Linked DNA regions of Homo sapiens. The protein of the gene in region 3 interacts with the protein of the main gene of each other region in a pairwise test. Each region holds a gene or a part of one and is shown on either strand. Other genes may lie near its edges.

Evidence for each region.
Region 1: the proteins of ERLIN1 (region 3) and C6orf120 interact in binary tests that used the Homo sapiens proteins (3 or more experiments, as listed by UniProt).
Region 2: the proteins of ERLIN1 (region 3) and BNIP2 interact in binary tests that used the Homo sapiens proteins (3 or more experiments, as listed by UniProt).

The regions. Positions count from the first base shown.
Region 1 is NC_000006.12:169,699,803-169,703,552, reverse strand, and holds the start of C6orf120 (UPF0669 protein C6orf120 isoform 1 precursor), read right to left. Parts: upstream 1,428-3,750; 5' UTR 1,391-1,427; coding exon of another isoform or gene 1,357-1,390; 5' UTR 1,117-1,356; coding exon of another isoform or gene 1,094-1,116; coding exon 518-1,093; 3' UTR 1-517. UniProt on the Homo sapiens protein: May be involved in induction of apoptosis in CD4(+) T-cells, but not CD8(+) T-cells or hepatocytes.
Region 2 is NC_000015.10:59,687,931-59,691,680, reverse strand, and holds the start of BNIP2 (BCL2/adenovirus E1B 19 kDa protein-interacting protein 2), read left to right. Parts: upstream 1-2,360; 5' UTR 2,361-2,546; intron 2,547-2,754; exon of another isoform or gene 2,755-2,949; intron 2,950-3,750.
Region 3 is NC_000010.11:100,165,426-100,169,175, forward strand, and holds part of ERLIN1 (erlin-1), read right to left. Parts: intron 1,982-3,750; coding exon 1,923-1,981; intron 1-1,922. UniProt on the Homo sapiens protein: Component of the ERLIN1/ERLIN2 complex which mediates the endoplasmic reticulum-associated degradation (ERAD) of inositol 1,4,5-trisphosphate receptors (IP3Rs).

The DNA.
Region 1 (3,750 bases), on a different chromosome or scaffold from region 3:
ATACCTGCCTGCCAGGAAATCCTTTTTGTATAGAAAAGTACCATCACCTACTTGGGGTACAGGCATGAGGCTTTAGTCCAGGCTCAGGGAAGTGTACGTAAATCATTTCCAACTTGATTTTAGTAACTCTTGAAAACTTACACCAACTTCGGTTAGAATCTCCAGAGTAAAATTACAAAGTTATCAACCTTTTGATTTGTGTCACAGCATGAAAGGTTGCTCTATTTTATATAAACCTGTTACTGCAATCATTTTTAGTCAACCTGCCTAATGAAAATGGAGTCTAAACACTTTGTGCACAGTCCTTTTATAGGAATTATGATCTTTAAAATACTGTGCTTGCTGCTTTTCCTATTTTTGGGGTAACTGAGGTAACAAAACTGCGTATGGCTTTATTTTTCCATCCCTTGACTAAAGGTACCTAGAACTTCAACCAAGTACAAGTAGCAAGGTTCACAGCAAACTGCAATCAGCTTCACAGATGGAGGGTTTTATATCCCAGAGTGTGGTCAACGACTCAAAAGAGAATTTCAAGTACCAGTTTCAAAATGCTAATTAATATCGTCCAGAGAACAGATTCCTCCTCTTGCGAGGCGTCTTCCGGGGCACCAGCGTGCTTCTGGCCGGCATCTGCGCCGTCGGCGGGGTAGGCGGCCTCGCCGAACGGGTGCTGCTCGACCGTGCCGTCGTAGTACACCTTCATCTCGAACTCGCTCTCCAGGTGGGAGGGGTGTCCATAGACGCCGATGCCCACTGGGCGCCGGAAGTGCGCGGGGATGGACACGGCGTCCGGGCCGCAGGTGGCCGATTGCAGCTCGTAGTCGTCGAAGCTGGGGTGCAGGCTGCTGGCGGAGACGTACAGATCCGCATCTCCCTTGAGGCTGCGCATCCTGAGGACTATCTTGCCCTCGTGGTTCAGCCGCAGGTAGCTGTAGTTCCCGGCGCCTATCTGGCCCTGGACGACGTGCAGGAGCACCCACTCCTCGGGGACCTCCTCCTCGTCCGCGCAGCTTCCCGGAGACAGGACCTGCGAGGCTAGGAGCAGCAGCAGGGCCGTCGTCCAGGGCGCGGCCCTCCCGCGGGGAGCGGCCATGGCTGGCGGCTCAGCTCCGGGGCCTGCAAGTGGGTCAGTGCTGCTGGGGACACCGGAGGCGCTCAGCACCGGAGCCTGTCCCCGCCGTCCGCACGCGGGTCCACGGCGCGTCCAGGCGCCTGGTCTGTCGCTGGGACTGTCCCTTCCCACCCGCGTGAGGCCCCGGGGAGGAGGGGTGGGTTAACCCCTCCCCCGTAGCGCGGCGCCCACTCAGGGCAGGGGCAGGGGCAGGGGCAGGGCCGCTGTGGCACCCTCGGACTCACCACCACTCCCCGCAGGGGGCCGCGCTTTATACATCCGGACCCGAGGCCGGAGCCTCGCCGGAGGCGGAAGTGACGCTAGGTCCGTAAGTGAGCCGGCCGGAAGCGAGGCTTCTCCAGCTGTCGCGAGATAGCGAAAGGGGCGTGGGCGCGAGGGGCGGCGGGCTAGTAACCATAGCGGCTCGCGTGGGTCGGCTGGCAAGTAACCATAGCGGCGAGCGTGGGGCGGAGTGTGGCTCGGTAGTCCTCTGCGTGCCCTCCTGGGAGCTGGGTGCTGTGAGTCCTCCCCTAGCGGGCTGGTCTCGGCGCGGAGTCGGCGCCGAACCCGAGCTGCTGCTCTGGGGCGTGTGCCTAGGGCGCAGGGCTGGAGCGCGGGGGCTGCGCGGTTGCTCGCGGCTCCGCTGAGGTCTCTAGGAAAGGGGGCGATTTGAGGGTTCCGCCGTGACCGCTTCCAACGGCGGACACGCGCGCTCTGGACCAGAGCCGTTGCCCGCTGTCTCGTCACCCGAAGCCTCCTCCTGACGCCGTGCTAGTGCGAGGGTCTCCAGGGGAATTCGGGGCACAAGTCGGGCCGGAGCATCCGGGCGGCCGCTTGAGATCGGCGCTTTGAGAACTGAGCGCATGTGGAGTTCGGAGGAAAAGGGCTCAGGTGGTTATTTTAATTAAAGCAGCTGTGTATAAGGAGCACTCAGATCTCTTTAAAAGATTCAGTAGTTTAGGAACGAACCAGGGCTGTAGAAATGCCCGGCCTCCTGCACCTCCCGTCGGTTCTGAGCTCCGAGGGCGGGAGCGTGGACCCTGAGGGCTCGTTAATTATGCCCCACTGGCCTTTCAACCTGCGTGGTAACTACCAGGCTAGGTTTTCCTAACTCGAGCCAAACAGCAAGTTTCTGACTTGATTATCACTAAAAGAGAAAAATTTCGATCTTTTCTAATCAGAAGGGAGTAATTTTCTCTTTTTAAAAATATTCGTATGTACATTAAAAAAACGGAAATGCACAGGATTTTATCAGTGGTACTCCTCGAGTAGTAGAGTTTTCATCTTTTTATGTATTTCTAAATTTTCTACAATTTACACACACTGCTCTGTACCAGTAAAGGAGTATTAACTCTACAGCTTCCAGTTTATCTGGGATTACTATCTTGTGTTTACTGACTTAACTTTAAGACTATGGTATCTTTAGCAATCACTTGTCACTGCCTTTTCCTGAAGTGCTTACCTAGTGTTAGGTGCACTAGAATCTCACTAAAATAATAAATTTAGTTTATTTTCCCTGACTTGTTCTGTGCATGTATGTACATGGATATTCCTGGGGATATCCTGTGACATTGATTATCCCCTAGGGTTGGCACAGCAGGGAGAGGAGGTAGGGATAAAAAACTTTATTATTTCTGCATTGTTTAAATGTTTTGTATTGTATTGCTTTTGTAATTCAAAAAAATGTTAAACAATTTATATTAGTGGAGGTAGGTTAAGTGCTGTAGCAATTCACCCCAATAGAACAGTTGCATGTTTCTTGCTCACACAGTCCTGTGTAGCGGTTTCTAGTCAGACGATTCCTTTGGGCAGCTCTCTGCAAGCTGCAGCCTAAAATTCTTCCATGTTGTGGTTTTTTTCCTTAGGCCCTCTGAATTCTCCGCATTTAGCCAGTGGGTGGGGAAAGAAGAGAGGCAGTGCAGGAGGAATTTATGGGCCAGGCACTCAACGACTACATGGCTGCACTTAATTGCAAGGGAAGCTAGGGAGTGTAGTTTAGTTCTGTGTCTAGAAGGAAAGGGAAGTGGCTTAGTGGAAAAGGAACAGCACTTACCGTAGTCTCTCTTCTGGTGACCAGATCTCTGCTCCACTCTTGATCCCACATGGAGAACACACTCTCCCCACCCCAAGGGGGACACTTTGTCAAGGTGCCTAGTGCAACACAGAACATTTCTCAGGATTGCACAGTTCTCTCCATCAGGCCTGGCTGTGGTTCCTCGTGGTCCAGAGCCCTATGGACTAAGAAGACAAACTAGTTGCTCTCCCCACTAAAATGCAGTGGTTAAATATGACCATGGTTTTTGTAACCATCTCCCTTTTGGAAAAGGGAGACACATGGCAGACACTGGTCTATAGCAGTTTTGAAGTGATGCTGGGGTGGAGGTGGGAGGAATTTCCCAACTAGACCCTGATTCTGCTATCTGGGAGGAATTCCCTTGTCCATTGTTCTTTTTCTTTCCTTTGAGACAGGATGTCACTGTTGTCCAGGTTGAAGTAGAGTGGCACAATCACAGCTCACTATAGCTTCAACCTCCGTGGCTCAAACGATCCTCCCACCTCAGCCTCCCCAGCAGCTGGGGCTACAAGCATGCACTGCCACACCTGACTACTTTTTTTTTTTAAAGTAGAGACAGGGTCTC
Region 2 (3,750 bases), on a different chromosome or scaffold from region 3:
TATATATAATCTGAAAGGCTATACATAAATATGTTAATAATAATTATCTTTTTGGCTTACTTGTAGTTTGTAATGTTTCAACAATAAGTATGGATAATTAACAAGATAGGGATAAAAAGATAAGTAATAGGATGGCTTACTCGAAACCAAAGCAAACACTGATCAAGCTTATTAAATAATAAAGTTACTAAAATGAAGAAGGAACTGAAGATCTTAAAAAAAAGAAATCACATAACTATATATGATTTCCAGTGATTTTCTGCCACCCTGTGGGGAATTCTGCACATTGCAGAACTGAAGAAGCAAAGTATGAAACTACAAAAACTTCTGTAAATCAAGATGAAATTTCTTGGCCCAAGTAGTTGTTTAGCTAAAGCTCTGTTGATCAGTTTTGTTTTCTCTACTAGCTATTTAGTGAAATTGCTAGACTAGGATAAAAAGAATACCTAATACTTAAATGTGATTACAATATGACAACCAAGGTCCTAATACATATATATGAATTCATCTCACAAAAACCCTATAAGGTAGGTACTATTTTCTTCCCATTTTATCAAAGAGACGGACTTTAATCTACCAATGGTGGGTAAATGTTGCCAAAGCAATGTGAAATCCAGGCAGAATGCTGCATTTTTAGTCAATGATTTAAAATTTTGAGCTTTTCTGTTCCCCTCAGGCCTGATCGTACCCCAATGGAATCACCCAAATACTTGATGCTGAGCCTTTCTATGGATTTATCAGATGAAACTTTGGAAAGGGACTTTTTTTTTTTTTTAAGACAGGGTTTCGCTGTCACCCAGGCTGGAGTGGAGTGGCGCGATCTTGGCTCACTACAACCGCCGCCTGCCAGGCTCCAGAGAGTCTCCCACCTCAGCCTCCCAAGTGGCTGGGACCACAGGTGCATGCCACCAAGCCCACCTAATTTTCTTCTTTTCTTTCTTTCTTCCTTTCTTTCTCTTTGCTTCTTTTTCTTTCTTTCTTTCTCTGTCTCTTTTTTTTTTTTTTTTTTTAAGAGATGGGGTCTCGCCATGTTGCCCTGAGGTCTGGCGATCTACCGACTCGGCCTCTCAAAGTGCTGGGATTACAGTCATGAGCCAGCACGCCCAACTGAGAGAGACTATGATGTTCTCCAAACAAATCTCATTTGGTTGAAACTCTACAGCTGAGTATGGTCTAATTTGAGTAGTTTACCTTGAGTACTCTAACCATGGTCTATAGACCTGGGCTCTTCTGAGAACTGTTTGCAAATGGTTCACAGAGAGAGAGTAGAAAACTCTATGTCAATTTTGCAGGTAATTTTATGGCTGTTAACTCTAACGATAAAAAGTTTTGACTTGGACTTTGTATGTCTTTTCATTTTTCTGTTTTATTAACTTGTCAAAAACTAATTGAAAATTGAAAAAAATAAACCGACCGTTCCCCCAGTGAAGAGAAGCACTGCTGTAAAGCTTTTCACACTCAAATATTACCAAACTCTAAGGTCGCTTCTGAGGCCTAACTCCCCAAAATGATGCCTCGGATATTTTTCCTCGCCTTATTTCTTTTTTTTCTTTTTCTTTTTTTTTTTTTTTCCTTTTTCCTTTTATTTGAGACGGAGTTTTTGCTCTGTTGCCCAAGCTGGAGTGCAATGGCACGATCTCGGCTCACTGCAAACTCCAACTCCGCCTCCGCCTCCGCCCTCGCCTCCTGAGTAGTTGGGATTACAGACGCGCGCCACCACGCCCAGCTAATTTTTGTTTGTTTAGTAGAGACGAGGTGTCACCATGTTGGCCAGGCTGGTCTCGAGCTCTTGACCTCCGGTAATCCACCCGCCTCGCCCTCCCAAAGTGCTGGGATTACAAGCGTAAACCACCGCGCCCGACCTCCTCCCCTTATTTCATCCATTTTATAATTCACATTATTGATCGCTGATAATTGCACCTATTGTAATGATACTGATAATTGCACCTGTTGTAATAATATTGATATTGATAATTGCACCTATTGTATTACAATATTATTATTGATATCGATAATTTCACCTACTGTAATGATCAATAAAGGCAGGCAGAAAGAAAACAAAAGTAACTGAAACTACCAGGCAGCGTCCCTGCGAACAGCAAAGAGGGAAGAAACGCCTTGAGGCGTAGTAACGCCACCAATAAGGAGTCGACGCGACGGGTCCGCCCACAGGCAAGGAAGGCCGACCCCGCGAGTGCAGGCGCGAGCGCTAGCCCGTGACGTCTGAGGGGGTTGGGGGGATGCTGTGTGGGTTTCAAGAAGACGCCACGCCTCCGCCGCCGCCACGCCCCCGCCGCCTCCACCGCCGGCTGCCGCGCCCGGAGGAGGTCGGGATGTTATCACTTCCGCCGGGGCTTCTCACTGTGTCCGGGTCAGCTGCTGCCGCCGACGCCGTACCGCTGCGGCCGGGGGATTGGGCCGGGGTCTCCACCGCCGACCGAGGGGAGCGGGCTCCGCTCGGCCCTGCTTTTTGCGACCTGGCCGTCAGCCCCACGTCGCCGGCCTGGAGGGGCGAAGAGGACGAGGGGGCCAAGGCTTCCTCCGGGGTGAGTGCGGCCTGGGAGAACTCGGCACGGTGGCTCCGGAGCTGGACTGGGAACCGGCCTAGGGGCGAAAGTCTGTCGGGCGCGTGCCCACGACGTCCGGGGAGAGGAAACCCAGAGAGTTACCCTTGGTAGGGGGAGCCATAGAACCTGCTCGGGAGGTGCTTCCTGGATCCCCGCCCTGCTTAGGTCCCCGCCCTTGGCTTGGGTCCTGTTTGTATTTGGCAGTTTGGCCCCCCACCCCGTCGCTTTTCCGTTTCTGGTAGTTGTGCTCGGGATGGAACCTTGCCCCTCCTCCGCTCCCCCACCCTTTTACCCTGGTGTGGGTGAAGTGGCTGGGCTACGATGGTTCAGTATTTATGACCAGCGTCCGTCCTGGTACAGAACAAAGAAACTTGGACTTCTGGTATGCCTCGTAACCGCGGGGAATAGACACGGAAGCAGCATAAGTAATCAGGGCTTTAATAGATCTTCCCTAGTACGCTAAACCAAATACAGAGTGTGTACGTCAAAAGCCGAGTCCCCGCGTGAATCTAGACACAACCCTTTCTGTTTAAATACCTGGCAAAATGGTTTGGATTTCTGGATGCATTTCATGCCGCTGGAGAGTTACTTGTCTGTGTCTTGTGAGCTCTTTGACGAAACAGCTTTTCCGGTGTTGCATCAAGATAGTTACGGTGCCTCCTATTTATTTAATTGAATAAACTATGTGATTGCATTTTAGTGTTGCTTTTTTCATTCTCACCTTCTCTTGATTAGGATCTCTATTTCACCTAATACCTGATTTCGTATTTTCAATTAAATGTAGTTTTTCTAACATTTTATAGGAATCTCTGCAATTGTAGAAACAAATTCTGTAATTTGTAAATGGATGTTTCCTCAAAGTTACAACTGACCTTACCCAATTAAGTTACCCCTGCAGACTAGTTTCTTGATCATTTTGCACATATTCTTAGTTCTTTTTGGTTTACATTTTCTCTAAACTCTATTCCTAGTCTTCATATTCTCTAGTGCAGCCTAATACTGCTGGGCTTAGACCGGAAGTATGACAGATCCACTTCTGCAAACGGAACTTGAACTAGATTATCATAAGTCAGTGCTATTATGGTCTTCAGGCATTACAAGCCCTTTGAAGCTAAGTGCGGCCAAATCAGGCATTACAGGCTTCTTCTGTATAAAATTGCCAGTGCACTGGAGACGGTGTGCT
Region 3 (3,750 bases):
ACCCAGGCTGGAGTGCAGTGGCACTATCTCGACTCACTGCAAGCTTCGCCTCCTGAGTTCACGCCATTCTCCTGCCTCAGCCTCCCGAGTAGCTGGGACTACAGGCGCCCACCACCATGCCTGGCTAATTTTTTGTATTTTTAGTAGAGACGGGGTTTCATTGTGTTAGCTAGGATGGTCTCGATCTCCTGACCTCGTGATCCGCCCACCTTGGCCTCCCAAAAGTGCTGGGATTACAGGCATGAGCCACCGCACCCAGCCTAAGCAATCATATTTAAAGCCTAAGACATGCTGACAGTTTAATAAAATTTTCTTTTTGAGACAGAGTTTCGTTCTTTTGCCCAGGTTGGAGTGCAATGGCGTGGTCTCGGCTCACTGCAACCTCTACCTCCCCGGTTGAAGCGACTCTCCTACCTCAGCCTCCCCAGTAGCTGGGATTATAGGTGCCTGCCACCATGTCCAGCTAATTTTTCTATTTTTACTGGAGACAGGGTTTCACCATGTTGGCCAGGCTGGTCTCAAACTCTTGAACTCAGGTGATCCGCCGGCCTCAGCCTCCTGAAGTGCTATGATTATAGGCATAAGCCACCACAGCCCGCCTATAAATATTTTTTCAATAAGTGGATCACATCCATAATCTACCCAGCCTGGCAGTCTACATTTTATACTTTTAAAAGAAGAGTTCTTTGTCTACAATGAAAAAGAGAAAACAGGCTGGGTGTGGTGACTCAAGCCTGTAATCCCAGTACTTTGGGAGGCCAAGGCAGGAGGACTGCTTGAGCCCAGGAGTTTGAGACCAGGCTGGGCAACAGGGCAAAACTCCGTCTCTATGAAAAATACAAAATTTAGCTAGGTGTGGTGGCATGCACTGGTAGTCCCAACTACTCAGGAGGCTGAGGTGGGAGGATCGCTTAATCACTTGAGCCTGGGAGGTTGAGACTGCAGTGAGCCGTGATTGTGCCACTGCACTGCAGTCTGGGCAACAGAGCAAGACCTTGTCTCAAAAAAAAAAAAATTAAGAAAAAGAGAAATAAAACTCTGTATGAGCTCAGAGAAGGTATGAGGGAAAAGGAAAATATAAAAGAAGAAAAAAACAATAAAAATCTGCATGGTAACAAAAAGGACTCAGAAGTAAACAACCTCATAAAGTAGTATTACTGCTCCTTGGACTTCCAGTATTTATACATCTGTGGTATCCTTGACTTGTGCAAATTTATTTTTCCAGCGTCTTATACTTTCCCTTTTAACACATCAGCCAAATTTCCTAAAGACTTTTATTTCTTCTTTTCAGTACCAGTCATACGAAAACAATATTGCCATTTCAAACACAGTAAGTATTCCCCTAAAAGGGATCCTGTCAGAAACTAATTTCATGTCTTCTCATTCCCAGTCAGCCCTGGATACATAAAAGAGAAGACTACCAGGAGTCAACAGAAGCAAGGCTTCCCTAGAGGCACATTATAAAGAACCAGGTCTAATTTTAGATATACAATCACATACAATGGAAAACCAAACTTTATACCAACAAGGTATCTATTCCTACCATTACAACACAGAAACAAAATATGAGCACTCTCTTCAACCCTAACGGCTTCAGGACTCTTTCCTCTATTAAATATTTAATTCAAGGTACTATTCATATAAAATTATAGCTCCTTAAGCTTCCAGCAATAGTTTTACAGCAAACTGCATCTTTAGCCACTGAAACTGCTCCTGAAATGTCCATACATAAAGAGAACACTAGTAAGAGTCTAGTGGGAATTAAGACACAAGAATAGGCAATATTACTAGAGTAAGAGTAAAGAAGATAAGACACATACTCCACCCCAGAGTGTATTGTCTCACATGTTTCCTCTAGACTGGAATATTAATATGCAGACAGCCCTAAACAGAAATATTGGGATCCCATGCATATTACTCACATTAACTCAAAATTTCTTCTTATGGCTTCTGGGATTTTGGGTTTTGTAACACGCACAGCCTAAAAAATAAAAGTGAAAAAGCCAAAGTATATTTGAAAGATAAATCTTCAAATTAAATCTTCTACAGAAAAGCCCCTCAAATGATACTAATCTAATAAACAACAGCTATAATATAGCGGCCTACTAACACGTTTGGGGATCCCACCAGAACATTTACTTTTCATGCCATCACACCAAGAATCAAAGACAAGCTGCTTCTTATTTCCTTACACAATGCCAGATTACAGGAAAAACCATCTACCCACTGAGGAAACAACTGCCTTATGAAAAAGGTTCTCACTTAAAAGATGTTTTACAAAGGTCGTTAGATACTTTTGCTTTCTTTTTCAACCCTGTAAACCAAAGAAGCCGGGAAGGCAAAGTTCCAAGACTGAAATTGTAAAGTCAGAAACAATTAGTCAAATACAAAAACAAACAAAAAAACCCAGGTTGGTGTATACAATTTAATACAGTGAGTAGTGAGTAAATTAATCTATCACTTCCAACCCCTGCAATCACTTGGTATTTGCTGTAAGTAAACAGCCCACTGGCTGAAGGAAAACAAATATCAATTAAAAGCTTATATTCTTTCTTCCTTAACTCTCACTTAGAACAAAGTCTGTCTTTGTAGAGGCTGTTTACCAGACACTTTGTTTCCCTAATCATAGTGTTCTTTGACACAATTAAGATTATCTACCTGGACAGTACTGTTTTTTGAAGGCTGACTTTTCTACATCAAGGACTTGATCTCTCAAAAGCTTTTGATTTTACTAAACATACGATACCCCGCCGCCCCACCTATACTGCAAACACACACAAAAAACACTTTGCTGGTCTGAAGAAGTTTTCCTTCTGAAAACTGGCTAACCTTTTAAGAATAACAAAGCCTTTAAGCACTTAGTCTTCTTTAAAGGCTTTTAAAACTTTTAAGCGATATAGCATTTCCTATATGAAATAGATGAGTCAAATTTGTAGGTAATTTTGAGGACAATCATAACTAAATATAAGGATTACAGTGGAATGGAATAAGCAGCTGAAGGCTGTGTGGAAAAAACTCACAACACACTGGCAGTGACACATGTGAGGCCTCACAACTCAGTGGAGACATGCAGAAGACAAATAAAAATTCAGGACCAGATTTTGTGAGATGTCAGATTTCACCATGTGACTAGCAGACATAAGATTACTTCCAATATGGATTAATATGATTCAAGGAAGCACTGTCATACTGCATTTAATTAAGAGACTGGCCACATATCTTTTTAGCCTTATTAAAAGAAGCGTAAAGTAGGACTTTTTTTTTTTTTTTTGAGATGGAGTTTTGCTCTTGTTACCCAGGCTGGAGTGCGGTGGTGCAATCTCAGTTCACTGCAACCTCCGCCTCCCAGGTTCAAGCGATTCTTCTGCCTCAGCCTCCTTAGTTGCTGGGATTACAGGCATGCGCCACCAAGCCCGACTAATTTTTGTATTGTTTTTTAGTAGAGACAGGGTTTCACTGTGTTGGTCAAGCTGGTCTCGAACTCCTGAACTCAGGTGATCCAACCACCTCGGCCTCCCAAAGTGCTGGGATTACAGGCGTGAGCCACCACACTCGGCCAGGACTGTCTTTTGAAGACTCCTATTTTGCTGAATGAGGCTGAAGAACATACTACATTGTGCTTGCCAATCTTGGGAAATCTCACAGATTTTCAAATATGTGAAAACATAAACACTTACTGTACAGATACCATGAGTAAGTTGCATCAAAAGAGATTTTAAAAGTAAAAGTGGGAAGTCCCACTCAGGCACC